2 linked regions of the Homo sapiens genome follow. Each later gene encodes a partner of the first gene's protein in a complex. Each region holds a gene or a part of one and is shown on either strand. Other genes may lie near its edges. The genes, in order: POLE4 and POLE2.

Region 1 (16,199 bases):
GGTGGGAATTTTCTGGAGACCCTTTTCAGGAGTCCATGAGGCCAAAATTATTTTCTTAATACTACTATGAGGTTGCCTTTTTCATTCACATTCTCTCAAGATGTAGTAGTTTTTTAAGAGCTACCTGAGAAGTGCTAACGTTAGCAACAGAAGCAGCTAGAGAATCCAGTTCTCACATGAAATCAGACATTAGAGACTTTTCTTACTAGATTTAAAAAAAATTACTTGTCATAAAAATGTTGTTTGTTAGCTGGTAACGCATTAGTAATTTTAAATCAATATTTTAAAACTTTAATTCTAATATAGTAAGTATTGATATAACTGACAGAAACAAAAGCTCCCTGGGCTCTTTAACAATCTTTAAGACCGTAAAGGGATCTTGAGGTCAAATTTGAGAACCAAAGCTGTGATGCAACCTCTTTTTGAACAAACGTGGATGCCTCACCACCACAATTTCATCTTTTCTAGCCTCCATGACTTTTTCTTGTTTCCTCTGGCTGGGCTGAATTTCTTCATTTCTGCCTGCCAAAAGCCCTACCCCTCCTTCAAGAGCATCTATAACTGGTTATCCTTGAATTTGGTCCAGATTTCGCTGCCTCCTTGGCACCCTCTTCCACGATGCTGGGCCCTCCAGGGCCGGGCCTCCCTCGGACACGTGCCCTCGTTAGCCTTGGAATATGCACACTCTGTTTTGACGGAGACTCTCTTGCGAGCCTGGTCTAGATTTCTCCCCTCACCAGCCAGGCACAGGCACCAATGGGAGGTGCCTGGGCTCCACAGGCCCGTCGGGGCCAGAGGGTCGCCGGTAGCGTCAACCAAGTGCACGACAGCCCACGGGTGGCTAGGCGCGTGGGAAGAGCCGGAGCCCGACCCCCGCCCACCCGGTTTCCTGGCAGCGCACTGCCGCGTAGGGGCGGAGCCGCGCGCCTACACAGGGTGTGGCCTCCAGCCCGCGCGGGAAAGGGCCTGCGCCGCATGCGCGCGCACAGTCGGCGGCCGCGCGCAGCACGCTCAAGGCCGGGATGGCGGCGGCGGCGGCGGCAGGAAGCGGGACGCCCCGAGAGGAGGAGGGACCTGCTGGGGAGGCAGCGGCCTCGCAGCCCCAGGCCCCAACGAGTGTGCCTGGGGCTCGTCTCTCGAGGTTGCCTCTGGCGCGAGTGAAGGCCTTGGTGAAGGCAGATCCCGACGTGACGCTAGCGGGACAGGAAGCCATCTTCATTCTGGCACGAGCCGCGGTGCGCCTGCAGCGCGAGGGCATGCGGGAGTGGGGGAGGTGGAGTGTGGGGCGGGGCCTCGGGGCCTCCCGCGGGCGGGGCTTAGGGCGGCGTGGCCCGGGTTTTGAGATGTGGGCGTGGACCCGGAAGGCGGAGGAAAGGGGCCGGGGACCTGTGCGAGTTTTGTTAACACTCCTCCCTCTTGTTGAGGACCTGGATAGTGAGTGACTTTAATTTGTATCTCCAGGGCCTCGTACAGAACTTGTAGGAGTCTTTAGTGAATGAGGGAGAATACTGGGAAGAGGGTAGCGGAATGGATCTTCATGAAGTCCAGGACAATCTTAGCTTCCAGAACATTTTCTTGCCCCGAGCCTTTCTTCTCCCTTTCTGCCCCCACCCACAAACCGGAGCCCTCACCTCCTCAGTGTGTTAGAACCCATTACTAAAACTTTGCTTTTTTACTTCACAGGAACTGTTTGTGGAGACCATTGCAAAAGATGCCTACTGTTGCGCTCAGCAGGGAAAAAGGAAAACCCTTCAGAGGAGAGACTTGGGTAGAGTGGCACTGCAGTGTCTGGGGACAGACAAGGGAGGGCTGGGCTGGTTTCCCCTTGTGCAGGTTGAGAAGACGTCACTCTGATCTGAGAGGTGCCACAGCGTCTCTCCCCAGGATGGTTTCTGTTGGCCACAGTGCCAGGAAGCCCTACCTGTAGAGGCTGTCTGCTTGGGGTGGCGGGGCAGTGTGTGAAGGTGTCTGGGGTTGCCGTAGCGGACTGGATCCCTTCATACCTTCTGCCAAATTGCACCAGAAAAAGATATTTCTTTTTCACCTAGCAACTGGGGATTTGATTTCTGACTCTTGTCTGGCTGGGAACCCTCACCTGGGTAAGATTTCGTATACCGTATTCTCATGCGCCCTGCGTCTATTGCCACGTTCTTCTCTGACAACTTTAAGAGCAAAGCGAATAAATAATTTAGGGGTAATTTAGGAGGCCCCCAACCCCCGCGTTGAATGGTATTTGCCTATGCTTTTCTTAACTCTTCTAGGGAGACAGCTAATATATATAAGAGTTGCTGGTAGAGTAGATATGGATCTCAAGGCAGCAAGGGACGCATCTTATAAATGCCCTCATTTGCCCAAAGCCTCATGCCCTTCACTGCAGATTGTGCTGTTTTCTGACTGAGGTCAGCATGGCTGAAGTTAGTCAGGTGTCTCTTTTCCTTGTGTTTCAGATAATGCAATAGAAGCTGTGGATGAATTTGCTTTTCTGGAAGGTGAGTTCCCTCTCAGTGGGCAATCATTTCCGCCTGTCTTTTGCATGTTGATGTGAAATTCAAAATCTCATAAAACGGATGCCTGCTTCTTGTTTGTGTAGGGATAATTCTCCGCACTTGCTATTAGGATAGAAAAAAGTAACTTGCTAAACCTAGTGAGGTTCAGTTTTCTCCCTTGGGGAATTAAAATTTCTACCTGAAAATTGCTAACCATAAAGAAATAGGAGGGAATATAAAGATCCCAGTGGAGTTAGATGAATTCGAAAGTTCGATTCCTACTTTGATCGCCATCCCTAAATGTCAGGCTTGCCCCCCCTCATCATGTTACAGATCAGAAACAATTGTTAACATTTAAAGGGTCACCGCTTGTTCTTTTTTCTTCAACAATCTGTGTGAAGTGATTATTTTGCTGCAATAAGACTTGTACTTGTCTGTATTTTTAGGAGTCATGGATTAACTTGTGTACTAACTAAATTTTGTCATTAAAAAAGAAAATATTTGAAATACCTAATTTTAGCTACCTAGCCTCAGAGCGATTTCTGCTACTTAATTCTTCAGTCTGATCAGCTTACTCTTCACTACACGTATGTAGTCATGTGCTGCGTAATAACTTTTTGGTCAGCCATGGACTGCTCACATGAGGGTGGTCCCATCAGATTATAATGGAGCTGAAAAATTCCTTTTGCCCAGTGAGGTAGTGGTCATAACATCCTAATGAAATACATTACCTTTTCTATGTTTAGATTTGTTTAAATACACTTATCCTCATGTTACAGTTGCCTACAGTATTCAGTACAGTAACATGCTGTTCAGGTTTGTAACCTGACAACAATAGGTATACCCTGTAGACTAAGTGTGTAGTAGGCTATACCATCTAGCTTTGTGTAAGTACCCTCTATGGTGTTCACACAGTGGTGAAATCGCCTGAAGATGTGATGCATTTCTCAGGATGTATCCTTGTTGTTGAGCGACACATGTATTTTGATTGAATAGCTTAGCAAAAGCCATGTATCCTTATTCTCCCAGGGTGTTCTCATTACCTCCTTCAAGCCTTATTACCTTTAGAAATATCTTGATTTATTCCACTCTTTTTTACTCCTTTGTTCTGCATCTCCCTGTCAACCTAGGCCCCTGGTCCTTTTGATAGATATTTTTTAAATGTCTTATTAGATAGATAGACTACCATGGCCAACTCTATGTCTAGACTATTGAGCATTCTTTTAATTTGCAGATTTTTCTTCAGCCTCTCTTTCCACCTACTCATTTTTCTTAAAATTAACTTTTGTTAGTCCTACCTAAGGCAGGCACTCCTTGTGACAGACTTTCTGTAAGTTCTGCAGTCAAAAATGTTTGGAGCCTACTTTACCTCTTCATTTTTAATTACCAGCTTTTCAAAGACATGAGTGATATGATCAGATTTGTATTTTAAGTGCACAACATTGCTGCCCTGGGGAAAATAAACTGGAGGGTACTAGGAATAGAAGTGGGGTGGTCTTATGTAGTTTTCCACTCTAGCCTCTATCACAGCATAGTGCTTAGCTTGGATTTTTAATAAATGGCCATTTATTGAATGATTGGTGTGTTTATTTTCATCCTCTGCCTTCATCCTCATTTATCTCTGTAATTGAATCCCTTTGCTCTGTCCTACATTGGTAGATCTGAATGTTAGCCATCATAGCCCCTGTGGATTCAGTCTGCATTATATTATTTTTTACTGGGTAAAATAAATGTTCTTATGTCCTTAGGTGTGTATGGTCTAAGTAAATACATTTTTTTCGTTTTTATAATACATATCCATACTTGAAAATCAAATCGTTACCTAATGGCTTATAATGAAGTACAGCTGCCGTCCACCCACTGTTTTGTTTGTGTTTTGAGCTTTTCTGGTGGTTACGTTTATTTCTAACTAATATGCTTACCCATTGGTTTGTCAGCTGTAGACGGTATGTATTGACTTCCTGCTGTGATAAATGAAGATTTGGCTAACCTGTAGAACCCCATAAATCCCCTGCTGTCTTTCTGATTTTTGGTAGTTGTATCACTAGTTTTAGTTTCTTTACCTTTACAGTTTATATAACATACTAGGATGTCTTTGGTTGTTGTGTCCAATTTTTAATGTATTCCTTGACTCCCCAGTTTGTAAAGTATGACTATTAGTGCATGTATCCCTTTTCCCTTTCTAGTTCACATCTAGCTATCAATTTGTGTTATCTAGTAATTTGACATTGTCAAAGCTAATAACATTTGTATCTTATCACAATTAAATCTTCCATGCTTTATCTCTGGTTGATTGTAGAAGTTGAAAACTAGGACTGTAAACAGTCTTTCTCTACCTTCTCTCTGTCCCTTAATTCCTCATTCAGGTCCCCTCCCTGCAAACAACTGTTACTAGTTTTCTTCTGTAATCTGGATATTTTATGCAAATATGTTTGTATGTGTATATGTATATTCTTTTTCTAAGTCATATGAAATACAACGTATGTAAAGTGTGTGCTGTAAATGTAAAGTCAATAAATGATAAAATGAACACTCTCGTAACCACCATCTTGGCCAAGAGATAGGGTATTGTCAGCCCCCAGAGTCCCACGTATATTCATTCTTCATCATACCTATTCTCATCCCCTTTCCCGACATTACTGTTTCCTAACTTTTTTGGTAATTACTTCCTTTTCTTTATAGCTTACTATATAAGCATGCATCCCTGAACACTAAGGTTTAGTTTTGTTTTGTTGAACTCTCTGCAAATGGAACCAAACCGTATGCATTCGTTGGCCAACATCTGTCACACAACTGTTTTAAGTTAACACATTTATGAGATTCATCTGTGTGATTGCACATAACTCATTTGTTCGTGTTCCTTGCTATATGACAGTACCACAATTGAACTATTTTAATGTTGATATTTGGGAAACCTTATTTCTCCTATTATAAACAATTTGCTGTGAACAATCTTGTACATATTTCTCTAGGGTGGATGTATATGTGTGTATAAAATATATAATACTGCTGGGACCTAGGCTATATAGAGTATTCGTATCTCCATCTTTGGCAGGTACTGCTGAACTTCCTGTATTCCAATTCACGTTCCTACCAGCAGTGCATGATAATTCCCATTGCTTCTCATTCTTACCCACACTTGGTATTACCAGAGTTTTTTATTTTTGACAAGCTGTTATTGAATGTAAGTGATAGTTGCATGTGGTGTTAATTCGTATTGCCCTGATTGTGGGTGACATTGGGCGTCTTTTCATATACATGCCCATTTTTTTTTGAGGGGTGTCTTCTATTTTTCTGTTAGCTATTTTTGTCCTTTTTCTTATTGACTTATAAAAATGCTTGCTGTATTTTATTTCATTTTTATTTATTTATTTTTTTGACGTGGAGTCTTGCTTTGTCATCCAGGCTGGAATGCAGTGGCATGATCTCTGCTCAATGCAGCCCCCCCTCCCACGTTCAAGAGATTCTCACGTAACTGGGACTACAGGCGTGTACCACCACGCCTGGCTAATTTTGGCATTTTTTTGGTAGAGATGGGGTTTCACTGTGTTGGCCAGGCTGGTCTCGAACTCCTGACCTCAAGTGATCTGCCTGCCTCCGCCTTCCAAGGTGCTGGGATTACAGGTGTGAGCCACTGCGCCCAGCCGTGCTTGTTATATTTTAGATATGAATCTTTTTTAGTATATGAGACGTATCTTTTCCTGCCTTTTCACTCCTTAAAAGGTTGTCTTTTGATACGCATTAAAATATAAAGGTAATCAAATGTATCAATTTTTTTCCTTATAACTAATGCTATTTGTGTTCATTTTAGAAAATATTCCCTACTGTATTGTCATGAAGACATTCTGTATATGCTAAAATCTTTATAGTTTTGTCTTTCATAACAGTGGAGTTGAATTTTTGTGTATTGGGTTGGGGGTCCAGTCTCATTTGTGTCTTCATATTTAGATATCCGCTTGTCCATATCGTCATCTCACTGCTTTGCAGTGCTACCTTTCTTATCAATCAAGGCTGTTTCTGGCCTTTCTGTTCTCTTCCATTGATCTATTTGTATCTCTTTTCCATTGATGGGTATTCTCACATCAGTACTATACTGTCTCAGTTATGGTAGCTTTATCTGAGAGAGCAGATCTTCCCACCTTGTTTTTTTCTAAGTATCTTTGCTATTTTTGAATCTTTGCATTTTCATGTACATTTTAGAATCTGTCAAATTCCACAAAAAGAGATATTAATTGGGATTGTATTGAATTTATAAATTACTGTGGGGAAGAAACGATATCTTTACAATAGTGAACCTTTCATTTTATAAATATGGTCTACTTTAACATTTATTAATATTTAGTTTTTAATAAATTATTTTACCTGAAGAAATCTTGATGTATTTTGTTAAATGTTGTTCTGTAAGTACTTAATATTTTTGATGATATTGTTAATGGTATCTTTCTAAAGAAAATTTTATTTTCTAAATATTGCTGTTTTTAGAAATATAATTGATTTTATGTTAATTTTGCAACTAGCATCTTTCTTAGCTGTTATTCTTAGTTTTTTTACTTAAAAATTTTGTTTTGATGTAGTTCTTAATAATTTGAATGACATATCTGTTGATTTTTGAATTTCTTTAATTACATAGTAGTATATCATCTGCCAATAATAATAATTTTGTGAAGTTCTTTCCAATCCTTATCTTTATATATTTTTTTCTTGCCCTACTGAACTGGCTAGAATCTCTAGTACAGTGTTGCATGGAAGTGGTAAGAGCAGGCATTTTTGACTTCCAAGGGAAAGCTTTCAGTATTTACCTAGTAATTATGCTTACTGTAGATTTTATGTAGATTTTTTAACAGATTATGAATGTTGCATCCCTGTTTATAAAAGAGATTAGTCTTTTTTTTTCATACTGTGTGTGAGCTTCATACAATTCATTGGCAATTATACACTTTTTATCTATTTTTTTTTTTTTTTTGGTGGGGGATGGAGTCTCACTCTGTTGCCCAGGGTGGAGTACAGTGGTACGATCTCAGCTCATTGCAACCTCTGCCTCCTGGGTTCAAGTGATTCTCCTGCCTCAGCCTCTCGAGTAGCTGGGATTACAGGCTCGCACCACCACACCCCAATAATTTTTGTATTTTAGTAGAGATGGGGTTTTGCCATGTTGGTCAGGCTGGTCTTGAACTCCTGACCTCAGGTGTTCAAGGTCCACCCGCCTCAGCCTCCCAAAGTGTTGGGATTACAGGCGTGAGCCACCGCGCCTGGCCCACTTTTTATCTTATCTATTCTCTGGAAAACTTATTGAAAGATTGGAATTATTTTGTTTTTGAATATTTGATGGAATTCAGTGATGCTGTTAGAGGGGTTGCAATGCCAAATTTGGTTATTGTATAATTTAGATTTTCTGTGTTCTTACTGAATTTCTTCTGTCTGCTTATTTTACCTGTTTCAAAGAGTTATGTGTTAAAACTCTACTGCTATGATTATGGACTATTTCTACTTATATTTCTGGGTCTATTCTTTCATTATATATTATGAAACCATGTGATTAGATATATACAAATTTAATGTTGTTATATATTGTTGGTGATTGAGCCTTTTATATTTGTAAATTGGCTATTGTTATTTCTAACTGCTTTGAGCCCTAAAGTCTATTTTGTTTAATATTATTAAAGCTTATCAGCTTTCTTTAGTTAGTATTTATTTGCACGGTACGGATTTTTGTAAATCTTTTAATTTTTATCTTTCCATATATTTGTGAACAGAATTTAACTGGATTATTTTCCTAAATTCAGACAGTCTGTGTCTATAACTGGAGCACGTCATTTATTTATGTTTAATGTAATTGGTCATATCTATGAGTTTGAATTCTATTGTCTTATTTTGTCCTGCTTTTTATTTGCTTGTTTTATGTTTTGTTTTTTTTTTCTCTCAATTTTTGGCCTTCTTTTGGATTATTATTTGATTTTTTTCCCTCTATCAGCTTGGAAGTTATATGCTCTATTTCTATTCTTTTAGTGATTATCAGTTACTATGTAAGTCCTTAATTTATCAAAGCCTATTTAGTACCTTTCCCCTCATTCTCAACAAATTGAGATCTCAGGATCCATTAACTCAATTTTCAAATTCCTCGTCTCCTAATTTATGTGCTGTTATTGTCATGTATTTTTGTTTTGTCTTTGTCAATCTACATAAGGCATTTTTATTCCTGAATTATGCAGTCAATGATATATGGATTTAGTCACATACTACCTTTGCTTTTCTTTCCTTTCTGGATTATTATTATTTTTGAGACAGTTTCATTTCGTCACCCAGGCTGGAGTGCAGTGGTGCGATCTCAGCTCACTGCAACCTCTGCCTCCTGGGTTCAAGTGATTCTCATGTCTCAGCCTCCCAAGTAGCTGGAATTACAGGCATGCACCACCAAGCCTGGCTAGTTTTTTTTGTATTTTTAGTAGAGATGGGGTTTCACCATGTTGACCAGGCTAGTCTCAAACTCCTGACCTCAAGTCATCTGCCTGCCTTGGCCTCCCAAGTGCTGGGATTACAGGCGTGAGCTGCTGTGCTTGGCCTCCTTTCTGTATTTCCGATCCTCCATTTGTGATCATTTTCTTCTTCCTGAAATAAATCATTTAGAACTTCATTTAGTATGGTCTGGTAACTGACTCTCTCATTTTTTTCTTATGAAAATGCCTTGAATTTCATTGTTGGAGGATAATTTGTTGAATATAAATTCTAGGTGGAAAATTATTTTCTTTTAGCACATTGAAGCTATCATTTTACTGCTTTTTTTTTTGGCTTCTATGTTTTCTATAGAGAAATTACCTGTTTGTAATTCTTTTGAAGCTAGTTTATCCTTTTTGTTTTTTGTCTGCTTTTAAGATTTTCACTTTGATTTTCTGTGGTTTCACTCTGATGTACAGAGGTGTGGATTTCTTTTTATGTAGTTTGTTTGAGCTTCTTGAATCTATAGATTAATGTCTTTCATCTGTCCTGGAAAATTCTCAGCGAGTGTCTCTTCAGCTATTGGCTCTGCCTTGTTCTTTCCTGTGTCTCTCTCTGGGATTCCCATTAAATATATGTAAAAACTCAATCATAATTTTGCCTCTCTAGTATGCATTCTGTGTAATTTTTTCTGATCTTCCAGTTTATTCTCTCCATTTGTCTCATTTCCTTTAAACTATTTTTTTTGTTTTTTTTTTTTAGTTTCAGTTTTTGTATTTTTCAGTACTGTGAGTTCTGTTTGGTTCCTTTCCAAATCTGTTGTCTTTTTTTTTAGCTTAATAAAGTATCAAGCAATTTTTGTGAGTACTTTTTGTTGTTCTTATTTTCTGCAGGTATTTTGAAGTTTGTCTTTTAGTTCTGTAAACATAGTAAACACAGTTGTTTTATAGTGAATGTTCCATCCAATATATGACCTAATATTCAAAGCCTTTTGAGTTTTTTGTTTGCTAGTCTGTGCCGAATCTAACATCCATAGTCTCTTGAGACTGTCTTTTTGTCTGTTGTTTCTTTTGGTACTGTCACATGGCCTTTTATCCCCCTATATGCCTATCTTTGGATAATGGTTATTTTCTTTAAAAAGTATTTGTTAGATAAGTTGAGGCCATATGGTGATACTTTCTCCAAAGAAAATTTCCATTTGCTCCTGAAGCCACCTACAGCCATTATCAGTGCAGGACTTCTGAATCCAGATCTAAGACTTGAAGGTTTCTGGACTATCATACTGATATGAACTCAGGCTGCAGGCCTGTGAAGGGGCACTGATTAAATTCCAGTTCGTCCTTACTCTGAGGGGGCAGCCTTTTGGGCTCTAGCTTAAGAAAGATGGGTGTCAGACTTCCTTACTTGGGTAGACTCAGGGATTTGACTCTTGGTTCCTTCAGCCTACACAAATAACCGCCCAGTTTCTCAGCTTTTTCAGATTGGCAGATGTCATGAGAGCAGAAGTAACATTAGAGGCTGGGTTTGTTTTGTGTTCTTACTGTCTCTAGATTTCACATTTGCTTTTTCTTGATGTCTCTTCAATTCCTGAAGATTTCCTTTTCTTATATATTTTATTTAGCTTTCTCAGTTGATCTCAACAGGAACTTGCCATTATGAAAAGCACCTCTATTTTTTTTTAAATTAGAAGTGTTTTTGCTTTATTTTTCTTATGTTTTTATTTTCCCTATATTATCTAGGTCATTAAAAAAAGTTTTGGTATCCTTTCAACTGTGTAGCTTTCTTCAGATACCTGGTGATTTTCATTCTATTTAAGAATAAGGGAATAAGGCTGTTTGGTAACTGTGTGTGTGTGTATGGGATGAGGGGGTGGTTGTTGCCTGGCAGCTTTGCTTTAGGGTGAACAGGGGTGGGACCAGATGTTGTCCTGGGTGACCCCGAGGGTATGAATGCAGAATGCTTTGCTGTGGGAAGCTGGCAGTTTTAGAGGCTGTTCTAGTTTTCTCCATATAGTTCATTTGGTTCTTTAGAAGAGAGCCCTGTGATCTTTGTTTTTTTTTTTTTTCCAAGTTAGGTTTAAATGCCTGTCTTCTGGTTGTCCTGCCTGTGGGGAGGGTTGTGGGGAGATAGGGGCAACTGTTTGTCATACAGACCCTCTGGTCATTAACCCATTTTCATCTCACATCACCATTCCTGGTGACTTGAGCCTGGAGCTTCCTCATGGTTCTTTTAGGCATATGGGCCTCCTTTTCTGCTGCAGCCCCCTCTGTTCATTCTAGGCTCCTTTTTCCTCTGCTCTATTTATAAGCATACTTTGATCAGGTTTCTGTTACTCAGTTTTTTGTTGAAATCCATTAACTGCCAGTGGGCCCCTATTTGTTGTAGATTTATACTTTTTAAACTTTTTTACCTTTTGAATGGAATCTTGGATGGGAGGGCATACGTACTTGTGGGCCCAGTCCCCCATCTGGAACTGAAACTTTCTAAAAAGATTATAAACTCTTTAATTAGAGAGTTTACCTCATTTATTTTATATTCTTTTCTTATATGGTCTTCATCAATGTTCATTAACTAACACAACGACTTCTTAGCCCTTTTCCCACTTCTAATTCTAGCTCTTCCGACTAGTATGCTTAATTCCTAACTGCCCACCATCTGTAATGACATGTTTTCCCTGGGGATATTTTGGATGGATCATCCTCAAAATTAGTATTTTGGTCTTAGAGAACTGCTGCCAATACCGGAGCCTCTTCTGCATTAAGTTTGCCCAGCTTGTTACACTAATCCAGCTTCTGAGGTCCCCTGATATACTCATTGCTCTTTGTATGTTTAGGTACTTTAGATTGATTGCCGAGCGGGGCAGTTTTGTGAGCCTTCATCTGAAGCCTTCAGTTCACCCCTCTGCACAGGCCTCAGCTTTGAAGAACGGAGTCTTTGCACTTACACACACTCTTCCTGTTCTGCCTTCACCTATGCCGGGATAAGCAGAGATCTCATCAATTAGCTCTTCTCTGCAAGGTCTTCCACTATTTCTGTCTGTCTTCCATATCAAGCCTGGATGCAGCTGCTGCTGCTTAGAGCAGAGATGAAGAAAGTGTTCTGCATAAGTGGCTTCCTGAATGATGAGGACCAGAATAAAGGTTTTTGATCAACCTCAGTCCAGTGTGTTTTATAATCTCGCCTTTGTTCCTACCCTGTGACTGGAGAGTCACCATACCTGGTCACAGACCTTCCTGATCTTCCCTGCCAGCCATTCTAACATACAGTCCTTTCATTAATTTTGTTCTTTTATTTTTCCAGCACATCACCAGAAAGTGGTTCCAGAATTTATGGAACACCACTTGCCCTCAGGAGTTCAAATAAATATGGTCCTAGATTGAAAGCCAGTTAAATTTTTTTTAAGTTTTATTTATTGACATATCCACATACTCTATATTTCACCAATTTAAAGTGTACAATTCAGTGGTATTTAGTATATTCACAAATATGTACACCAGTCATCACAGTCGATTTTAGAACATTTTATTTATTTATTTATTATTATTATACTTTAAGTTTTAGGGTACATGTGCACAATGTGCAGGTTAGTTACATATGTATACATGTGCCATGCTGGTGCGCTGCACCCACTAACTCGTCATCTAGCATTAGGTATATCTCCCAGTGCTGTCCCTCCCCCCTCCCCCCACCCGACAACAGTCCCCAGAGTGTGATGTTCCCCTTCCTGTGTCCATGTGTTGTCATTGTTCAGTTCCCACCTATGAGTGAGAATATGTGGTGTTTGGTTTTTTGTTCTTGCGATAGTTTACTGAGAATGATGATTTCCAATTTCATCCATGTCCCTACAAAGGACATGAACTCATCATTTTTTATGGCTGCATAGTATTCCATGGTGCATATGTGCCACATTTTCTTAATCCAGTCTATCGTTGTTGGACATTTGGGTTGGTTCCAAGTCTTTGCTATTGTGAATAATGCCGCAATAAACATACGTGTGCATGTGTCTTTATAGCAGCATGATTTATAGTCCTTTGGGTATATGCGCAGTAATGGGATGGCTGGGTCAAATGGTATTTCCAGTTCTAGATCCCTGAGGAATCGCCACACTGACTTCCACAATGGTTGAACTAGTTTACAGTCCCACCAACAGTGTAAAAGTGTTCCTATTTCTCCACATCCTCTCCAGCACCTGTTGTTTCCTGACTTTTGAATGATTGCCATTCTAACTGGTGTGAAATGGTATCTCATTGTGGTTTTGATTTGCATTTCTCTGATGGCCAGTGATGGTGAGCATTTTTTCATGTGTTTTTTGGCTGCATAAATGTCTTCTTTTGAGAAGTGTCTGTTCATGTCCTTCGCCCACTTTTTGATGGGGTTGTTTGTTTTTTTCTTGTAAATTTGTTTGAGTTCATTGTAGATTCTGGATATTAGCCCTTTGTCAGATGAGTAGGTTGCAAAAATTTTCTCCCATTTTGTAGGTTGCCTGTTCACTCTGATGGTACTTTCTTTTGCTGTGCAGAACTCTTTAGTTTAATTAGATCCTATTTGTCAATTTTGGCTTTTGTTGCCATTGCTTTTGGTGTTTTAGACATGAAGTCCTTGCCCATGCAGAATGGTAATGCCTAGGTTTTCTTCTAGGGTTTTTGTGGTTTTAGGTCTAATGTTTAAGTCTTTAATCCATCTTGAATTGATTTTTGTATAAGGTGTAAGGAAGGGATCCAGTTTCAGCTTTCTACATATGGCTAGCCAGTTTTCCCAGCACCATTTATTAAATAGGGAATCCTTTCCCCATTGCTTGTTTTTCTCAGGTTTGTCAAAGATCAGATAGTTGTAGATATGCGGCGTTATTTCTGAGGGCTCTGTTCTGTTCCATTGATCTATATCTCTGTTTTGGTACCAGTACCATGCTGTTTTGGTTACTGTAGCCTTATAGTATAGTTTGAAGTCAGGTAGCGTGATGCCTCCAGCTTTGTTCTTTTGGCTTAGGATTGACTTGGCGATGCGGGCTCTTTTTTGGTTCCATATGAACTTTAAAGTAGTTTTTTCCAATTCTGTAAAGAAAGTCATTGGTAGCTTGATGGGGATGGCATTGAATCTGTAAATTACCTTGGGCGGTATGGCCATTTTCACAATACTGATTCTTCCTACCCATGAGCATGGAATGTTCTTCCATTTGTTTGTATCCTCTTTTATTTCCTTGACCAGTGGTTTGTAGTTCTCCTTGAAGAGGTCTTTCACATCCCTTGTAAGTTGGATTCTTAGGTATTTTATTCTCTTTGAAGCAATTGTGAATGGGAGTTCACTCATGATTTGGCTCTCTGTTTGTCTGTTGTTGGTGTATAAGAATGCTTGTGATTTTTGTACATTGATTTTGTATCCTGAGACTTTGCTGAAGTTGCTTATCAGCTTAAGGAGATTTTGGGCTGAGACAATGGGGTTTTCTAGATATACAATCATGTCATCTGCAAACAGGGACAATTTGACTTCCTCTTTTCCTAGCTGAATACCCTTTATTTCCTTCTCCTGCCTCATTGCCCTGGCCAGAACTTCCAACACTATGTTGAATAGGAGTGGTGAGAGAGGGCATCCCTGTCTTGTGCCAGTTTTCAAAGGGAATGCTTCCAGTTTTTGCCCATTCAGTATGCTATTGGCTGTGGGTTTGTCATAGATAGCTCTTATGATTTTGAGATACGTCCCATCAATACCTAATTTATTGAGAGTTTTTAGCATGAAGGGTTGTTGAATTTTGTCAAAGGCCTTTTCTGCATCTATTGAGATAATCATGTGGTTTTTGTCTTTGGTTCTGGTTATATGCTGGATTACATTTATTGATTTGCGTATATTGAACCAGCCTTGCATCCCAGGGATGAAGCCCACTTGATCATGGTGGATAAGCTTTTTGATGTGCTGCTGGATTCGGTTTGCCAGTATTTTATTGAGGATTTTTGCATCAATGTTCATCAGGGATATTGGTCTAAAATTCTCTTTTTTGGTTGTGTCTCTGCCTGGCTTTGGTATCAGGATGATGCTGGCCTCATCAAGTGAGTTAGGGAGGATTCCCTCTTTTTCTATTGATTGGAATAGTTTCAGAAGGAATGGTACCAGTTCCTCCTTGTACCTCTGGTTGAATTCAGCTGTGAATCCATCTGGTCCTGGACTCTTTTTGGTTGGTAAGCTATTGATTATTGCCACAATTTCAGCTCCTGTTATTGGTCTATTCAGAGATTCAACTTCTTCCTGGTTTAGTCTTGGGAGAGTGTATGTGTTGAGGAATTTATCCATTTCTTCTAGATCTTCTAGTTTATTTGCGTAGAGGTGTTTGTAGTATTCTCTGATGGTAGTTTGTATTTCTGTGGGATCGGTGGTGATATCCCCTTTATCATTTTTTATTGCGTCTATTTGATTCTTCTCTCTCTTTTTCTTTATTAGTCTTGCTAGCGGTCTATCAATTTTGTTGATCCTTTCAAAAAACCAGCTCCTGGATTCGTTAATTTTTTGAAGGGTTTTTTGTGTCTCTATTTCCTTCAGTTCTGCTCTGATCTTAGTTATTTCTTGCCTTCTGCTAGCTTTTGAATGTGTTTGCTCTTGCTTTTCTAGTTCTTTTAATTGTGATGTTAGGGTGTCAGTTTTGGATCTTTCCTGCTTTCTCTTGTGGGCATTTAGTGCTATAAATTTCCCTCTACACACTGCTTTGAATATGTCCCAGAGATTCTGGTATGTTGTGTCTTTGTTCTCGTTGGTTTCAAAGAACATCTTTATTTCTGCCTTCATTTCGTTATGTACCCAGTAGTCATTCAGGAGCAGGTTGTTCAGTTTCCATGTAGTTGAGCGGTTTTGAGTGAGATTCTTAATCCTGAGTTCTCGTTTCATTGCACTGTGATCTGAGAGATAGTTTGTTATAATTTCTGTTCTTTTACATTTGCTGAGGAGAGCTTTACTTCCAAGTATGTGGTCAATTTTGGAATAGGTGTGGTGTGGTGCTGAAAAAAATGTATATTCTGTTGATTTGGGGTGGAGGGTTCTGTAGATGTCTATTAGGTCTGCTTGGTGCAGAGCTGAGATCAATTCCTGGGTATCCTTGTTGACTTTCTGTCTCGTTGATCTGTCTAATGTTGACCATTTTCATATGAATGGAATCATGTAACAATGTGGTCTATTGTGTCTGGGTTTTTTCACTTTGATAATGTTTTTAAGGATTATCCATGCTATATAGCATCTACTAGTACCTCATTTTAAAAAATTGTGGTAAATTGTACATAAAGTAAAATTTACTTTTATAAC
Region 2 (16,199 bases), on another chromosome or scaffold:
GATGGAGTCTCACTCTGTCACCCAGGCTGGAGTGCAATGGCACGATCTCGGCTCACTGCAAGCTCTGCCTCCCGGGTTCACACCATTCTCCTGCCTCAGCCTCCCTAATAGCTGGGACTACAGGCGCCTGCCACTACGCCTGGCTAATTTTTTTTTATTTTTGTATTTTTAGTAGAGACGGGGTTTCACTGTGTTAGCCAGGATGGTCTCGATCTCCTGACCTTGTGATCCGCCCGCCTCAGCCTCCCAAAGTGCTGGGATTACAGGCATGAGCCACTGCACCCGGCCCTGAATTATATATTTTTAAAGGGTGAATTGTATAGTATGTGAACGATACCTCAATAAAGTTGAAAAAAACACTTAATTTTATATAGGGCCATAAAATGAAACATTTCCTAATCTGTATCAACACGTACTGCCAAACTGAAAAGTGAAAAGTTCTGAATCTATTTCTATTTAATGAATTTTATAAGTTGAGACTCTCTGTGGATCTAAAGTTGTTCACTGTGGTTCATTGAGGTTGGCAACCTCTGTAATTAGTTCACAGGGCATGAGACTAGCCTGGCATTATTGCTTTGTTGTAACATAATTTTGTCCTTTCAAACATAGAGGATTAGACAAATGAAAGTGACGTTACTTTTTTTCAGGTTGGTTTGAAGATCAAGTGTTTCATGTCAATGCCTTTGGATTTCCACCCACTGAGCCCTCTAGTACTACTAGGTATTAAAATGTTTGGTTTATACTCTATGGGAATTTGGTAATACTGGCAGGAGTGAATGTAAGATAGTACGTCATATCTCAGTTACTAAAAGGTGTCAGGCTTTGTGTCAAAATGGAAAAAGCAATGGAAAATGAGAATTAGAAGACTGGGTTTTGTATGTAATGTGAAAACTAGCAGATTGGCCAACAATTAGTTGCAATACCGTCTTTGTACTTCGGCTTTAACTGGGAAAGATTTCCAGTCTGTTTTATCTCTGGGGTTGATGAGAAGTTGAAGTGAGATAAGACAACTAGGATAACACTTAGAAGAATATAATTCCATGTTAATATAAAATTCTCATTTTTATATTCCAATGAATGAAAGTTATGTGAGGTAGCTTATAGCTCCTTAATATAAGTGAAAGCATCATAATATTAGAGCTATTCCAAAATGGCCTTCTCTTAGAGGAGCTGAGCTCCCTGTCACTTGAATTATTTGGGCAGAACCTGAATGATAGTATAAAAATTGTACTTGGTGTCCCATGGGTTGAAAGTAGTTTATAGACCTTTCTTTTCTTCTCCCCACTTTGAGGTGTTTAAAAACATTTCGAGTTAGTTTCCAGTGTATAAAAACTAGAAGATTTCTCATAAAGGCCTAGGTTTCAGAGTTCTCTTAACAGGAGGATCTGGCAATACAGAGCCTGAATTCTCACACAGCAAAAACTAAACTGCAGTGGTTGCCCACTTTGGGCAGGGCATGTATGTGTGCCCTAGTTAGTGTCAGTGGACTGCTGCTTTGCTATTTAGTGTTATCTTCCTGGAGCCTGTAAGCATTTGAGTTTGCCACCTCTGGGGGAATTAAAGTAGTTGCCTTCTAACCATGAGATTCTGTATAATGGTGATGATTTCAAAAGGAAGCATAAAGATTAAGATTTTAGTTTTACCAGGAGGCAGAGGTTGCAGTGAGCCGAGATCGCACCACTGTACTCCAGCCTGGCAACAGAGCGAGACTCCGTCTCAACAACAACAACAAGGATTTTAGTTTTAGTATGCCTGTATAAATTCAAGGTGCAAAGGCAACATTTCCTGGCTGGGAGTTTACTGGCAGGGCGGCCTGTGCAGAGCATCTACTCTTGCTGTTGAAGTAACTGAGGGAAAGGTGCTGATCTTGCTAAGGAGAACACAAGCCCTAATCAAGCCAAGCTCACCTCTATTTGAGTGCTTTTGGTGCAGTTTGTGGCTTTTTTCCAATATGGTAAGTTTCCTTTGGAATATATTTAGAGCAAAATTGCCATTGTCATGGTATTTTTGTTTTGTACAAGCTTCAAAATTACTACTTTGGAATGAGAGGTATAGTTGAGTTGGCTGGCTGTGAGTTTACCATTTGTTTCTCTTTAGCCAAGAGATCATTATTATAATGTTTCAAATAATTTTCCACTTAAATTATACCATTTTCTCTAAATCCAACTGCTTAGTATATGCTTAGTAAACCAAAGGATTGGTATGAGGTGTAATAAAGTACATTAAAATAAAATGATCATTTTATTCTTGTTAGGATTATAAATTTTCTCTAAAATGCCTTCAAAATATAAAATTCAGGGGGCTAAATCTGGTGGTAGTCAATCAATTCAACAACTAATATTTTAGTGAGTATGTTTTATGTGTAAAATACTGTTTTACAAATAAGTGCAAATAGGTCTACAGCATGGTCCTATCCTAAAGAGATTTACACTGACTCAATACCCTCCCTACCATTGTGTAGTTAATGCAAATAATTTTTTTTTAAACGGAAGATGTGAGTAAGGCTTTTCTGAAGTTTAATTTCTCAATATTTAGCTTAATAGGTGTTTCTGTGATGCTCTGATTTATGTTTGGGTATATGCTTAACTGAAATCATCATACAATTATGTCTACTTACTGCATTCCTCTAGCAACTATAAAATTATTACTGTACCTTTGAAAATGCCAGTTGGTCCACTTGGTGGGAACAATAACAATATCAGTTACCATATCTAAGGGCTCACACCGTACTAAGCACTGTGCCCTGTGGGCTTTCTGTACATTATCACTTGTATTCCTTCTAGTAACCCTGTGCAGTAGATATCAGTTTAGTTTTTTTTTGCATTTGAAGAGTTAGGTTAAGAAGTGTCGATTTGGGAGGCTGAGGTGGGTGGATCGCTTGAGCTTTGGAGTTCAGAACTAGCCTGGGCAACATGGTGAAACCCTGTCTCTATTAAAAATACAAAAATTAGCCAGGTGTGGTGGCATGCGGTTGTAGTCCCAGCTACTTGGGTGAGAGAATCGCTTGAACTTTGGAGGCGGAGGTTGCAGTGAGCTGAGATCCTGCCACTGCACTCCACCCTGGGTGACACACTGAGACTTTGTCCCCCTACCCCCCAAAAAAGAAGGGTTGGGTAATTTGTCCATGGTCACAAACTTTTTTTAAGACGGAGTTTTGCTCTTGTTGCCCAGGCTGGAGTGCAATGGCACCATCTTGGCTCACCACAACCTCTACTTCCCGGTTTCAAGTGATTCTCCTGCCTTAGCCTCCCAAGTAGCTGGGATTACAGGCATGTGCCACCACACTCAGCTAATTTTGTATTTTTAGTAGAGACAGGGTTTCGCTATGTTGGTCAGGCTGGTCTTGAACTCCCGACCTCAGGTGATCCACTGGCCTCGGCCTCCCAGAGGGAGGCTGGGATTATAGGTGTGAGCCACTGTGCCTGGCCCAAACTTTTTATTGTTAGAGATGTGCTTTGATCCCAAGGTTTCCGACTCAAGCCAGTATGCTGCATTGGAAAAGTAGTTGAGTCTTTAAAAAAAGAAAAGTTTTTTCTTATTAATAATGTAGTTCATGATTGCAAAAAAAAAAATTAGAAAATATATGAAGGCACACAAAAGGAAAGGAAAATCACCTGTAATTTTACTAAACAGAAAAAAACTGTTAACATTACTTTATATATGTATATACAGTTGTGTATTGCATAACAACGGGGATACATCCTGAGAAATGTGTTGTTAGGTGATTATGTCACTGTGCAAACATCACAGTGTACTTATACAAACCTAGATGATATAGCCCACTGTACACCAAGGCTGTATGGTACAGCCTGTTGCTTCTGTGCTACAAACCTGTGTGACACGTTGCTGTATTGAATACTATAGGCAACTGTAACACAATGATAAGTATTTGTCTCTCTAGATACAGAAAAGATAAAGTAAAAATATGGTATAAAATATAAAATTGGTACACCTGTATGGAACACTTATCATGAATGGAACTTGCAGGGCTGGAAGTTGCTCTGAGTGAGTCAGTGAGTGAGTAGTGAGTGAATTTGAAGGCCTAGGACATTACTGTACACTACTGTAGGCTATTAACACTGTATACTTAGGCTACACTAAATTTGTTTAAAAAGAGTTTTCTTTCTTCAGTAAGAAATTAACCTAGCCTGGGCACAGTGGCTCACACCTATAATCAATCCTAGCACTTTGGGAGGCTGAAGGGAGTGTTGCTTAAGGCCAGGAGTTTGAGACCAGTCTAGACAACATAACAAAACCTCATCTCTACCAACAACAACAACAACAAAATTAGCTGGGTGTGGCAGTGTGTACCTGTAGTCCTAGCTACTTGGCAAGCTGAAGTGGCAGCATTGCTTGAGCCCAGGAGTTAAAGGCTGCTGTGAATTATCATTGTGCCACTATACTTCAGCCAGAGTGACAAAGGAAGACCCTGTCTTGAAATAAAAATTTTTTAATAAAATTAATTAACTTTAGTTACTATAACATTCTTTATAACCTTTAAAAAATTTTAAATTTTTGACTCTTTTTGTAATAAACAGCTTAAAACACAAACACATTCTACAGCTGCACAAAAATTGTTTCTTTGTATCCTGATTTTGTGAGCTTTTTTCTTTTATTGATTAATTGATTTACTGATACAACTGTACTCTCTTCTTCAGGCTGGAATGCAGTGATATGATTATAGCTCACTGCAACCTCAAATTCCTGGACATAAGTGTTCCTCCTGCCTCAGCTTCCCAAGTAGCTAAGACTGCTAATTAAAAAAAAAAAATTGTGTAGGGATTGGTGGGGGTCTTCACTATGTTGCTCAGGCTGGTCTCGAACTCCTGGCCTCAAGCAATCCTCCCACCTCAGCCTCCCAAAGTACTGTGATTACAGGCATGAGCCACTGTGCCCAGCCACTTTTTTCCATCTTTATATTTTCTAAAAATCTTTTTTGTTAAAAACTAAAACAAGTGTATTAACCTAGGCCTATACACAGAATCATCAGTATCACTGTTTTTCATCTCCACATCTTGTCCACTGGAAAGTCTTCAGGGGCAATAATTCATGGAGCTGCCATCTGTAGTAACAATGCGTTCTTCTTGAAGGACCTCCTGAAGGACCTGCCTGAGGCTGTTTTACAGTTAAAAAAAAAAGTAGAAGGACTACACTCTAAAATAATGATTAAAAGTACAGTAAATACATAAACTAGTAACATAGTCATTTATTATTGTTATCAAGTGTTACATATTGTACATTATTATATGTGCTGTACTTTCCTACAACTGGCAGCTCAGTAGGTTGTATACACCAGTGTCTCTACAGACACAGTAATGTGTGGCACTAGGACATTGTGACAGCTAAGATGTCAGTAGGCAATAAGAGCTTTTCAGTTCCATTATCATTCTGTGAAACCACTCATATATGCAGTCCGTCATTGCCAAAACGTTTTTATGCCGTGCATGACAGTCCATATGTAGTAGATCCTCATTAATTTACAGATTTGTGCTAAAATGTTTTTGTACCTCCTAAAGTCAATACTAAAGGTGCTTTAGTGGTCATTTATGCTTAGCAGAACAGCAAAAAATTTTGAGTCACCTGGCATGCATGTTCCCAGCTGAAGTCGAACAGGCCATACTGCCTTCTTGTTTCAGCCTCATTAAGAGATGACCAGAGGGGCCGGGCGCGGTGGCTCAGGCCTGTAATCCCAGTACTTTGGGAAGCCTAGGCGGGCGGATCACGAGGTCAGGAGATCGAGACCATCCTGGCTAACACGATGAAACCCTGTCTTTACTAAAACTACAAAAAATTAGCCGGGCGTGGTGGCAGGTGCCTGTAGTCCCAGCTACTTGGGAGGCTGGGGCAGGAGAATGGCATGAACCCGGGAGGCAGAGCTTGCAGTGAGCCGAGATCATGCCATTGCACTCCAGCCTGGGGGACAGAGCGAGACTCTGTCTCAAAAGAAAAAAAAAAAAAGATGACCAGAGGACAGAGACTGCAGGGAGCAGTACAGGGTAGTGCAAGAAGCTCTGGCCCTGGGGCCAGTTTTGTGTGGGGAGGGGGCATTTGAATCTCACCTCTGGCACCTGTTTTTGGAGCAACCTCAGATAAGTCACTTAACATTTCTGAACCAACTTTTCTCATTTGTAAAAATAGAATCTACCAGGATAAATTGGTTTTAGGACTTAAGACTATAATCAATCCATGTATATATAAGTACAAATTTTCCCAAGGAGCAATGGTTCAGTGTTTGCCAATTCATTGTTTGTGGAGATTTTATAGAACATAATATCACTAATAACAAGAATCAACTGGCTGGGCGTGGTGGCTCATGCCTGTAATCCCAGCACTTCGGAAGGGCGAGGAGGGTGAATCATTTGAGGTCAGGAGTTCAAGACCAGCCTAGCCAACATGGTGAAACCCCATCTCTACTAAAAATACAAAATTGGCTGGATGCGGTGGCATGTGCCTGTAATCCCAGCTACTCAGGAGGCTGAGGCAGGAGAATTGCTTGAACCCGGGAGATGAAGGTTGCAGTGAGCTGAGATCGCACCGCTGCAGCACTGCACTCCAGCCTGGGAGACAGCATGAGACTCCGTCAAAAAAAAGAAAAAAAAAAAAAAGGAATCAACTATAACAAGATATGTATGTGTATATCTGGAGAGTTTCTTTTTATGCATGAATGCACAGGTCTATATCTATTCCCTTTTTTTGGCATTATAAATGGATACATACTGTACCTTGCTTTGTAACCTGTGTTTTTCATCTAATAATATGCTATCAACATTTTCTATTACTGTGAAATATTGTTTTATAGCATGATTCGTGACATTCAGGAAATATGTTTTGAGCACATACTGTATTGCCACTAGGTGGGGAGACAGACATGAAACAATCGCCCAATTACAATTGGCTGACTACAATTTTTTTTTTTTTTTTTGAGGCAAAATCTTGCTTTGTTGCCCAAGCTGGAGTGCAGTGGCATGATCTCGGCTTACTACAACCTCCATCTCCTAGGTTCAAGCGATTCTCCTGCCTCAGCCTCCCGAGTAGCTGGAATTATAGGTGCCTGCTGCCATGCCCGGCTAATTTTCACATTTTTAATAGAGATGGGGTGGATTTCACCATGTTGGTCAGGCTGGTTTTGAACTCCTGACCTCAAGCAATCCCCCCACCTCGGCCTCCCAAAGTGCTGGGATTATAGGTGTGAGCCACCCTGGCCTGATTACAAATTTGATAAGATCTGCAAAGGAGAAGTACAGGTTCCTATGAGAGTGTATAATGGGAAAATCTAACCTCTTTTGGGATCCTCAGAGGAGGCCTATGGGGTATTTGCATTTAAGCTGGGAACTGCAGGATGTCAGTGTAGAGTGGGCAAGAGTGGTGGAGGCTGGGAGTGTGTAGATTACCCACTTTCCTACTGACCCTTGCTTGGTGAGCATTGAATAAAACCAAGCTTTGAAGGAACCGTTGAATAATTTTTTCACAGTTCTTGGATATAGGCTAGTCTTTGTATATATCTTTAATTCCTTAGGATTAGCCATTCCAGAAGTAGAATTACTTGGGCAGATGGTTAGCACATATTTTGAGGTTTCTATGAGATATTGTTCAAATGGTGTACTCATTTCTTCTACTTTCAGTGACATAGGAAATTATTATTTTAATGTTTGCTTTAGTCAGTTTTTTTTTTTTTTTTTTGAGACAAGAGTCTCACTGTCGCCCAGGTTGGAGTGCAGTGGCGCAATCTCGGCTCACTGCAGGCTCCGCCCCCCGGGGTTCACGCCATTCTCCTGTCTCATCCTCCAGAGTAGCTGGGACTACAGGCGCCCGCCACGTCGCCCGGCTAATTTTTTGTATTGTTAGTAGAGATGGGGTTTCACTGTGTTAGCCAGGATGGTCTCGATCTCCTGACCTCGTGATCCGCCCGCCTCGGCCTCCCAAAGTACTGGGATTACAGGCGTGAGCCACCGTGCCCGGCCGTTTAGTCAGTTTTAAGACACAGATATAGCCTATTATTTTATTTACTGCTTCCATATTGCTTATCTTGTTTTAGAATATTTAGATAACCTTTGTACTTTTAAAGTGTTACAAAGAGTACCTTTTTACACTGGAAAATAACTTCATTAGATACAAAGAAGCTAAATGTATACAACTATTAGAAAAATATCTCTAGTGGTATATAGAAGATAATTATGTTATAATTATCTAGGGCATACTATGGAAATATTAATTTTTTTGGAGGTCCTTCTAATACATCTGTGAAGACTTCTGCAAAACTAAAACAGCTAGAAGAGGAGAATAAAGATGCTATGTTTGTGTTTTTATCTGATGTTTGGTTGGACCAGGTGGAAGTATTGGAAAAACTTCGCATAATGTTTGCTGGTAGGTCTTATTTTTTTTCTTCTTTCTTGAACTCTTTTAAGGGTTCATGTTTTAAAACTTTTTGAGTATTCTATTTATCTTTTTGAGTATTCTATTTAAAAAAAAACAGAGTTAGCAATGAGATAATTTAAATTAGATTTCATTTTAAAGACTTAAATTTTTACATTAAGAAAAAAACCTGTGTGTGTGTGTGTGTGTGTGTGTGTGTGTGTTTATAGTCATGATAAGTAAGAATTAGTCCTGAAGTTCAAGACCAGCTGGACAACATAGTGAGACCCCATCTCTAAACAAAAACAAAAACAAACTGGGTTTAAGTGCAAGCCTATTACCCTGGGCAGGTTACTTAACCTAAGTCTCAGATTTTATGGATGTTCTGAGGAGTAATTAAGCCAATGCAGGCCTGGCCTATAGTAAGTGCTCAATGAATGGCTACTGTTATTAGTATTATTTTAATAAGTTATTAAAATGTTATTTTAATTAAAATAAATTTTTATTATTAGAAAGTCATGGTTAAAGGGTTTTTAACTTGATTTGTAGACTAGAAAAGTATTGTTCATTTACTCTTTTATTGTTTAGGTTATTCACCAGCACCTCCAACCTGCTTTATTCTGTGTGGTAATTTTTCATCTGCACCATATGGAAAAAATCAAGTTCAAGCTTTGAAAGGTATTAACGATCTATTTAATAAGAAGTGTTTCTATAGTCATATAAACTAAAGTAATAAGAAATTATCCATAATATTTTAATTAAGAATATACAGGATTGTATCTAATCAAATATAATTTTATGGCATTATATGCAAATTTAATTCAATACCTTTTTAAAATTTTAGATTCCCTAAAAACTTTGGCAGATATAATATGTGAATACCCAGATATTCACCAAAGGTAATGATCTCTAGCACTATATATTTTTTCACCGTTTTACTTAAAAAAAAAACAAAAAATGAATTTTGTTATATCAGCAATTATTACAAAACTAAGGAAGAAAGATAAAGTTGAGAAAATTAAAAGAACTAAGAGATAAAGTTATCCTCACATTGTACTAGAGGTTTATAATGAAAAGTATTGAAAGGGATAGAGGTAATTTCAGCCATACTTGGAATTTCTTCGTGGCATTACTCTTAAGAGTCTAGAGCTTCACTCTCCGATATGATAGTCACTGGCCACATGTCTCTTTAAATCTAAGTTTAATTAAATTTAAATATAAAATTCAGTCCATCAGCTATGCTAGCCACAATTCAAGTGTTCAATTGGGCAGTGCAGATATAGAACTTTTCTATCATGACATTACTAGACAGTGTTGGTCTGGAGACTTAATAGTTCATTTATTATAATGCATGAAATTTAAATGTTTTTTAATTTTAAAGAGAAAACAAAGGGAATAACTTGCTTTTAAGCTATTGGATAGTGTTACAATAATATTTTTAAATGAATTGTGTTGAATTTTGCTACAGTAGTCGTTTTGTGTTTGTACCTGGTCCAGAGGATCCTGGATTTGGTTCCATCTTACCAAGGTAAGTTTTGTTCAGATTTTTGCAACAGTGTAGAAAATTTTGTAAAACTTAAAAAGATAAACTATATCACATAAATTGTTTTTATAGGCCACCACTTGCTGAAAGCATCACTAATGAATTCAGACAAAGGGTACCATTTTCAGTTTTTACTACTAATCCTTGCAGGTAAGAATTAGTATTTTGTGTTATACATTTTTCCTTTCATTTAAAAATTAGCCAGGTGTGGTGGCTCATGTCTGTAATCTCAGCACTTTGGGAGGCCGAGGCAGGCAGGTTGCTTGGAGTTCCGAGACCAGCTTTGGCAACACAGTGAAACCCATCTCTACAAAAAGTACAAAAATTAGCTGGGCTTGGTGGCACGCGCCTGTGGTTCTATGAAGAGGCTGAGATGGGAGGATCACTTGAGCCTGGTAGGTGGAGAGGTTGCTGTGAGCTGAGAATGCACTACTGCATTCCAGCCTGCAGCCTGGGCGACAGAGCAAGACCCTGTCTCAAAAAAACAAAAAACAAAAAAACAAAAAAAACAAAAAACAAAAAAACTAACTTGATTCCTAAAATGTGTCTCTGAATTTCGACTGTTATGGAATAAATATAAGAAGAAAATTTATTTTTGTTTTAGGTTTCTCAAAACTTTGAAAATAGTTTAACTATATTTAAATAATTTATTGGTAGTCAATTCAGACTCTTGAATAATGGATAGCAGTTTAAAAATAGATATTATTACTACATATCCTTTAAGAAAGGTTACAAAGGAAGAATACAAAGATTACTTATTTACTGTTCGTATTGCTCATTGTAATCATAAGTTCTTCCTGTGGGAATACCATCAGAGGCAGCCTTGGTTCGCCTCTTTTCTGCCTACATTCACTCCTTTGCTGGCCTTCTCCAGTGTCCTCTGGCTTTAAGTATCATCTGTGTATTGACACCTTCCACATTTATATTTCCACTTCAACCTACCTTCCAAACTCCAGACTCAGGTATCCAGTTGCCTACTTATCACCATCCCAACCTAAGTGAACTCCTGATCTTCCTCCCCACGAGTGTCCCTAACCTCTTCTGTAGACTTCTCCATGTTAGTTCATGACACCTTCATGGTCTGAACAATGATTATTCCAGTTGTTCAGGCCAAACACTTTGGGGTTTCTCTCACATGTTTTTTCAGGAAGTCCCATTAACTTCAAATTATATCCAGAATCTGCTCTCTCTCTATACCTCTACCTCCACAACCCTCTACCACAGTGGTCCCCAACCTTTTTGGCACCAGGGACTGATCTTATGGGAGACAGACGCCAGGGGGGGTGGGGGTGATTTTGGGATGATTCAAGCGTATTACACTTATTGTGCACTTTATTTCTATTATTATTACATTATAATATATAATAAAACAATTATACAACTTACCATAATATAGAATCAGTAGGAGCCCTAAGCTTGTTTTCCTGAAACCAGACGGTCCCATCTGGGGATGATGGGAGACAGTGACAGATCATCAGACATTAGATTCTTATAACGAGTGTGCAGCCTAGATCACTCACGTGTACAGTTCACAACAGGATTCGTGCTCCTGTGAGAATCTAATGCCCCTGCTGATCTGACAGGAGGCAGAGGTCAGGATGTAATACAACCGATGGGGAGTGGCTGTAAATACAGATGAAGCTTTGCTTGCTTGCAGCCTGCTGCTCACCTCCTGCTGTGTGGTCCAGTTCCTAACAGACCATGGACTGGTACCAGTCCATGGCCTGGAGGTTGAGGAGCCCTGCTCTGCCATCTTCTCGGCCTGGATTATTACAATAGCCTCCTAATTGGTCTCCAGCTTTTACTCCTTCCCCTCCGTATTCTATTCTTTTTTTTTTTTTTTTTTTTTTTTTTTTTTTTTTTTTTTTTTTTTTTTGAGACGGAGTCTCGCTCTGTTGCCCAGGCTGGAGTGCAGTGGCGCGATCTCGGCTCACTGCAAGCTCCGCCTCCCGGGTTCATGCCATTCTCCTCTCCGTATTCTATTCTTAACGCAGTGTGAAAGTGATCCTGTAAAGCATAAGGCATATCCCATCCACCTTCCCGATCCTGGAAAAAGGGACCCTCATTGGAAAAAGGGACCCCTCGTGATTTAGTGACAGCCGTATCCTTGCAGTGGTAATCAAGGCCCTGTGTTATCTGGCTCCGTTACCTCTCTGATTTCCTCTCCTCCCCATTTACTCCAGCCACACTAGCCTCCCTTCTGTTCCTCAAGGATGCCAGGCGAGCTCCAGTCTGAGGGCCTGGGCTCCATCTGTTCCCTTTGCCTGCAGTGCGCTTCCTCTGGGTATCTGCTTGACTAAGTCCCTCTTCCGCTTCAAGCCTGTGCTCAAGTCACACTAAATTATGAGCCCGGCCTGTTCTGATCATCCTATTAATATGCCCGCCTTCTAGGCTCTCTCTTACCACATATGCTGTCCCTCTTAGCCTGTCTTTTTCTTTTTCTCTTATGCTTAATTATCTTAAAACATACTATATGATTATGTTCGCTTTTTATTTTCTCAGCCCCACCCCCTACTAGAATGTAAACTGTATGAGGGCTGGGATCTTTTGGTTCTGTTCGCTAATCCCTAGAATGGGGTAGGCATATATTAAGAGCTCAATACATAGCTGTTAAATGAATAGATGAATAGACAGACTCTGGTTGAAGTTTTGTGTGGTGAACAGTGAATGTGGGAATGGGGTTGTATTGTAAGAGATTTTACCTTTAAAATTAATATCATTTTTTTCTGAGAAGTCAAATTCAACTACTGTTTTCATTTCAGAATTCAGTACTGTACACAGGAAATTACTGTCTTCCGTGAAGACTTAGTAAATAAAATGTGCAGAAACTGCGTCCGTTTTCCTAGCAGCAATTTGGCTATTCCTAATCACGTAAGTGAAACAACTTTTTTATTAAACTGCCTTACATGTTGCATTATATAAAATTTTATTAAGCCACTTAATAATTTGTCCTTGGGTTAGGACATTTATTTATGGTTCAAAATAGTTTGAACGTACTTTTGTCAGTAAGTTAATTTTTGTTAGTGAAGTCAGTGTTTCTCAGCTTTCTACCTAAGTGTATGTCCTTTAGAGGACAGAGAAAAGCTGAGAATAAGCATGAAATTTCTTTCAAGCTTCGTGTTTTGCCTTTTAAACTCTTAAATTATACTTGAAAATATATGTATATTTGTTTTAATAAACTGTTCTTATTTATCCCATTGGTTACATATTTTATATAGTATGTCCATATCACAAGAATGTGCAGTATTTATCTTGTAGCTTCGAGGTTCCCTGACAATAGTTGTCAATCACAGGTTACATACACCCCCATTTGAGAAGTACGGAAATAGATGTTACAGAGCATTTTTATTATTCATTTTATAATATTTAAAGTTTATGGACCAGGTGCAGTGGCTTATGCCTGTAATCCCAGCACTTTGGGTGGCTTGCTTGAGGCCAGGAGTTTGAGACCAGCCTGGGCAGCATAATGATGTATATGTTATTAAATGAAAACTCATAGATTTTTTTTCCTAAAATACAGAATAGTTTATTTCACTTTTAAATTAGTGTCTCCCAAAGCTCTGTGAGTCAAAGCTTTCCTAGTTTCTCAAATTTTCTGGTTCCTTTTGGTAATTAATATTTAATTTGAAATTATTTGTTTAGCTATTTTCACTTTTGCAAATGAACTGAAGTTTGCTTTGTTTTGTGCTCTTTTGTAGTTTGTAAAGACTATCTTATCCCAAGGACATCTGACTCCCCTACCTCTTTATGTCTGCCCAGTGTATTGGGCATATGACTATGCTTTGAGAGTGTATCCTGTGCCCGATCTACTTGTCATTGCAGACAAATATGATCCTTTCACTACGACAAATACCGAATGCCTCTGCATAAACCCTGTAAGAATGTAGTTAATCTTATATAGTCATTATTTATCAAGATTAGAGTGCATTTTTTAATTTAAAAATATATATTTAATAAGATTATTGTCGAAGTAAAAATATGCTATTAGTGAAACACTGAATTAAGTTTCTATACACAGAAAGTTGGTATACACAGAAAGTTCTTAAACTTTCAGTATAGTGACTATAAAGTAACATGACTTAAAAAACAAAAAAACAAGCATACCCACAAGCATACCAAAACATAAATCCAAAAGAGTAATTTTCTCCTCTTCAGAACTTATCTTGGGATTCCTTTCTGGGAATTGCTTCAGAGCCTGCATATTGGTGGTACTTGTCCTTTGAGAATGATTTTGATTTTTGGAAATTGCACAGGTCCCAAAAATCTAAGCCTGATTAATATAGAAACCTCATTGGTACATATTTTATTACTTAATTTTATGTAGAACCTTGAAATTGCTTCAGAATCTTGAGGTTGCTTCAGAATTTCTGCAGAAATATAATTGACTTTTAGGCCAGGTATGGTGGCTCACACCTGTAATCCCAGCACTTTGGGAGGCCGAGGTGGGTGGATCACGAGGTCAGGAGTTCAAGACCAGCCTGACCAACATGGTGAAACCCCGTCTCTACTAAAAATTACAATAATTAGCTGGGCGTGGTGGTGCGCGCCTGTAATCCCACCTACTTGGGAGGCTGAGGCAGGAGAATTGCTTGAACCAGGGAGGCAGAGGTTGCAGTGAGCGGAGATCACGCCATTGCACTCCAGCCTGGGCGACAGAGCGAGACTCCATCTCAAAAAAAAAGAAAAGAAATATAGGCCGGGTGTGGTGGCTCACGCCTGTAATCCCAGCACTTTGGGAGGCCAAGGCGGGCAGATCACGAGGTCAGGAGATCGAGACCATCCTGGCTAACATGGTGCAACCCCGTCTCTACTAAAAACACAAAAAATTAGCTGGGCGAGGTGGCGGGCGCCTCTAGTCCCAGCTACTCGGGAGGCTGAGGTAGGAGAATGGCGTGAACCCGGGAGACAGAGCTTGTAGTGAGCCAAGATCGCGCCACTGCACTCCAGCCTGGGCAGCTGAGCGAGACTGCGTCTCAAAAAAAAAAAAAAAAAAAAAAAAAAAGGGAAAGAAATATAATTGACTTTTTGAACTTGGAGAATAAATACTGCATAAACAATGACATAAACACAGTTATGTCAAACAAAATATTATCTCCACTAGAGATTTTTAATATGCATGCTTCCTTGATTCTTGTGAATTTTAGACTTTACTAATTTTTTGTTTCATCTGAGTAATTTCTAGAAACATCATGCCTTATTTTTGGCATGATGCTGGGCCTGTAATCCCAGCACTTTGGGAGGCCGAGGCAGGAAGATGGCTTGAGTCCAGGAGTTCACAACCAGCATGGGCAACATAGAAAGGGCCTGTCTCTACTTTGCTTTCCTCAAACACACAGTTTGTCCAGCTTCTTCTAAGACATGGCTTATCGGCCTTGGCACTTTTGACATTTTGGACCAAGTAATTTTTGGTGGTGGGGGCTATCCTGTGCATTGTAAGCTGTTTAGCAGCATCCCTGGCCTCTGTCCACTAAATGCCAGTAGTATTCCCCAGCTGTAACAATCAGAAATGTCTCCAGACACTGGCCAAATGTCCCCCTGAGGGACAAAGGAACCCTGGTTAAGAGCCTCTGCTTTAAGAATGAACACAGTTAACTGATTTGGTTTTATTGCTTAGAAATTTATGACCTGATTTTTATTCACATTGAAATAGTCTTTCATGGTGATGCTATTTCCTTACTTAAACTTTGGGCATTCTCCTAGTTAATGCTCTATTTGAATATACCTTATTTCTGAATTTTTCTACTTTTTCATCCCTGTGAGTAAACCACCACCTCCTACACCATCATTATATCTTTTTTACCTTATTTATACCTTTTGGGCAAGCTCAAAACTAGCCTTAGACATTACTTCATCCTTTCTTGATATTTATTCACATTAACGAATGCCTGCCATAGGCTAGGTGTTGGGTTCGGTGCTTGGGGCACAAAGACTGAAAAGACAGGGCCTCTGCTCAGCCACGTGAGAGTTTCATAGTAGACAAACAATTGTATGTGTGATTATTGCTCAGTTGCTTTACAGGCACATAGGAAGGGAATCAAACAGGTACATAGGAATGCAAATCAGTTTTGCATTAGAGAGAGGGGCAGGAAAGACTTCTTGAACTTGCTGATTGTCTCACATGCATATTTGGCGTTACACAGTCTGTTTATTTTTTACACTAAGTAGAGCTCCTCCTAAGCATTTCCAACCTCATCTTTTAGCATTAAGACTGTCTAGCCAACTCAAAAGACTTTTGCTTCAAGTGGAGATATTTTATAGTAACAACTCTGTAAAAAGATCGTGTAAAAATCTGTTGTGTTACTTT

The links.
Region 2: POLE4 (region 1) and POLE2 share a complex: the UniProt entries of both Homo sapiens proteins name them as parts of the DNA polymerase epsilon complex.

What each region holds. Positions count from the first base shown.
Region 1 is NC_000002.12:74,957,658-74,973,856, forward strand, and holds POLE4 (DNA polymerase epsilon subunit 4), read left to right. Parts: upstream 1-985; 5' UTR 986-1,022; coding exon 1,023-1,235; intron 1,236-1,683; coding exon 1,684-1,768; intron 1,769-2,447; coding exon 2,448-2,489; intron 2,490-11,751; coding exon 11,752-11,765; 3' UTR 11,766-12,471; downstream 12,472-16,199. UniProt on the Homo sapiens protein: Accessory component of the DNA polymerase epsilon complex. Participates in DNA repair and in chromosomal DNA replication.
Region 2 is NC_000014.9:49,647,836-49,664,034, reverse strand, and holds part of POLE2 (DNA polymerase epsilon subunit 2), read left to right. Parts: intron 1-647; coding exon 648-720; intron 721-8,191; coding exon 8,192-8,364; intron 8,365-8,940; coding exon 8,941-9,030; intron 9,031-9,196; coding exon 9,197-9,251; intron 9,252-9,820; coding exon 9,821-9,880; intron 9,881-9,967; coding exon 9,968-10,045; intron 10,046-12,657; coding exon 12,658-12,766; intron 12,767-13,593; coding exon 13,594-13,770; coding exon of another isoform or gene 13,771-13,782; exon of another isoform or gene 13,783-13,888; intron 13,889-16,199. UniProt on the Homo sapiens protein: Accessory component of the DNA polymerase epsilon complex. Participates in DNA repair and in chromosomal DNA replication.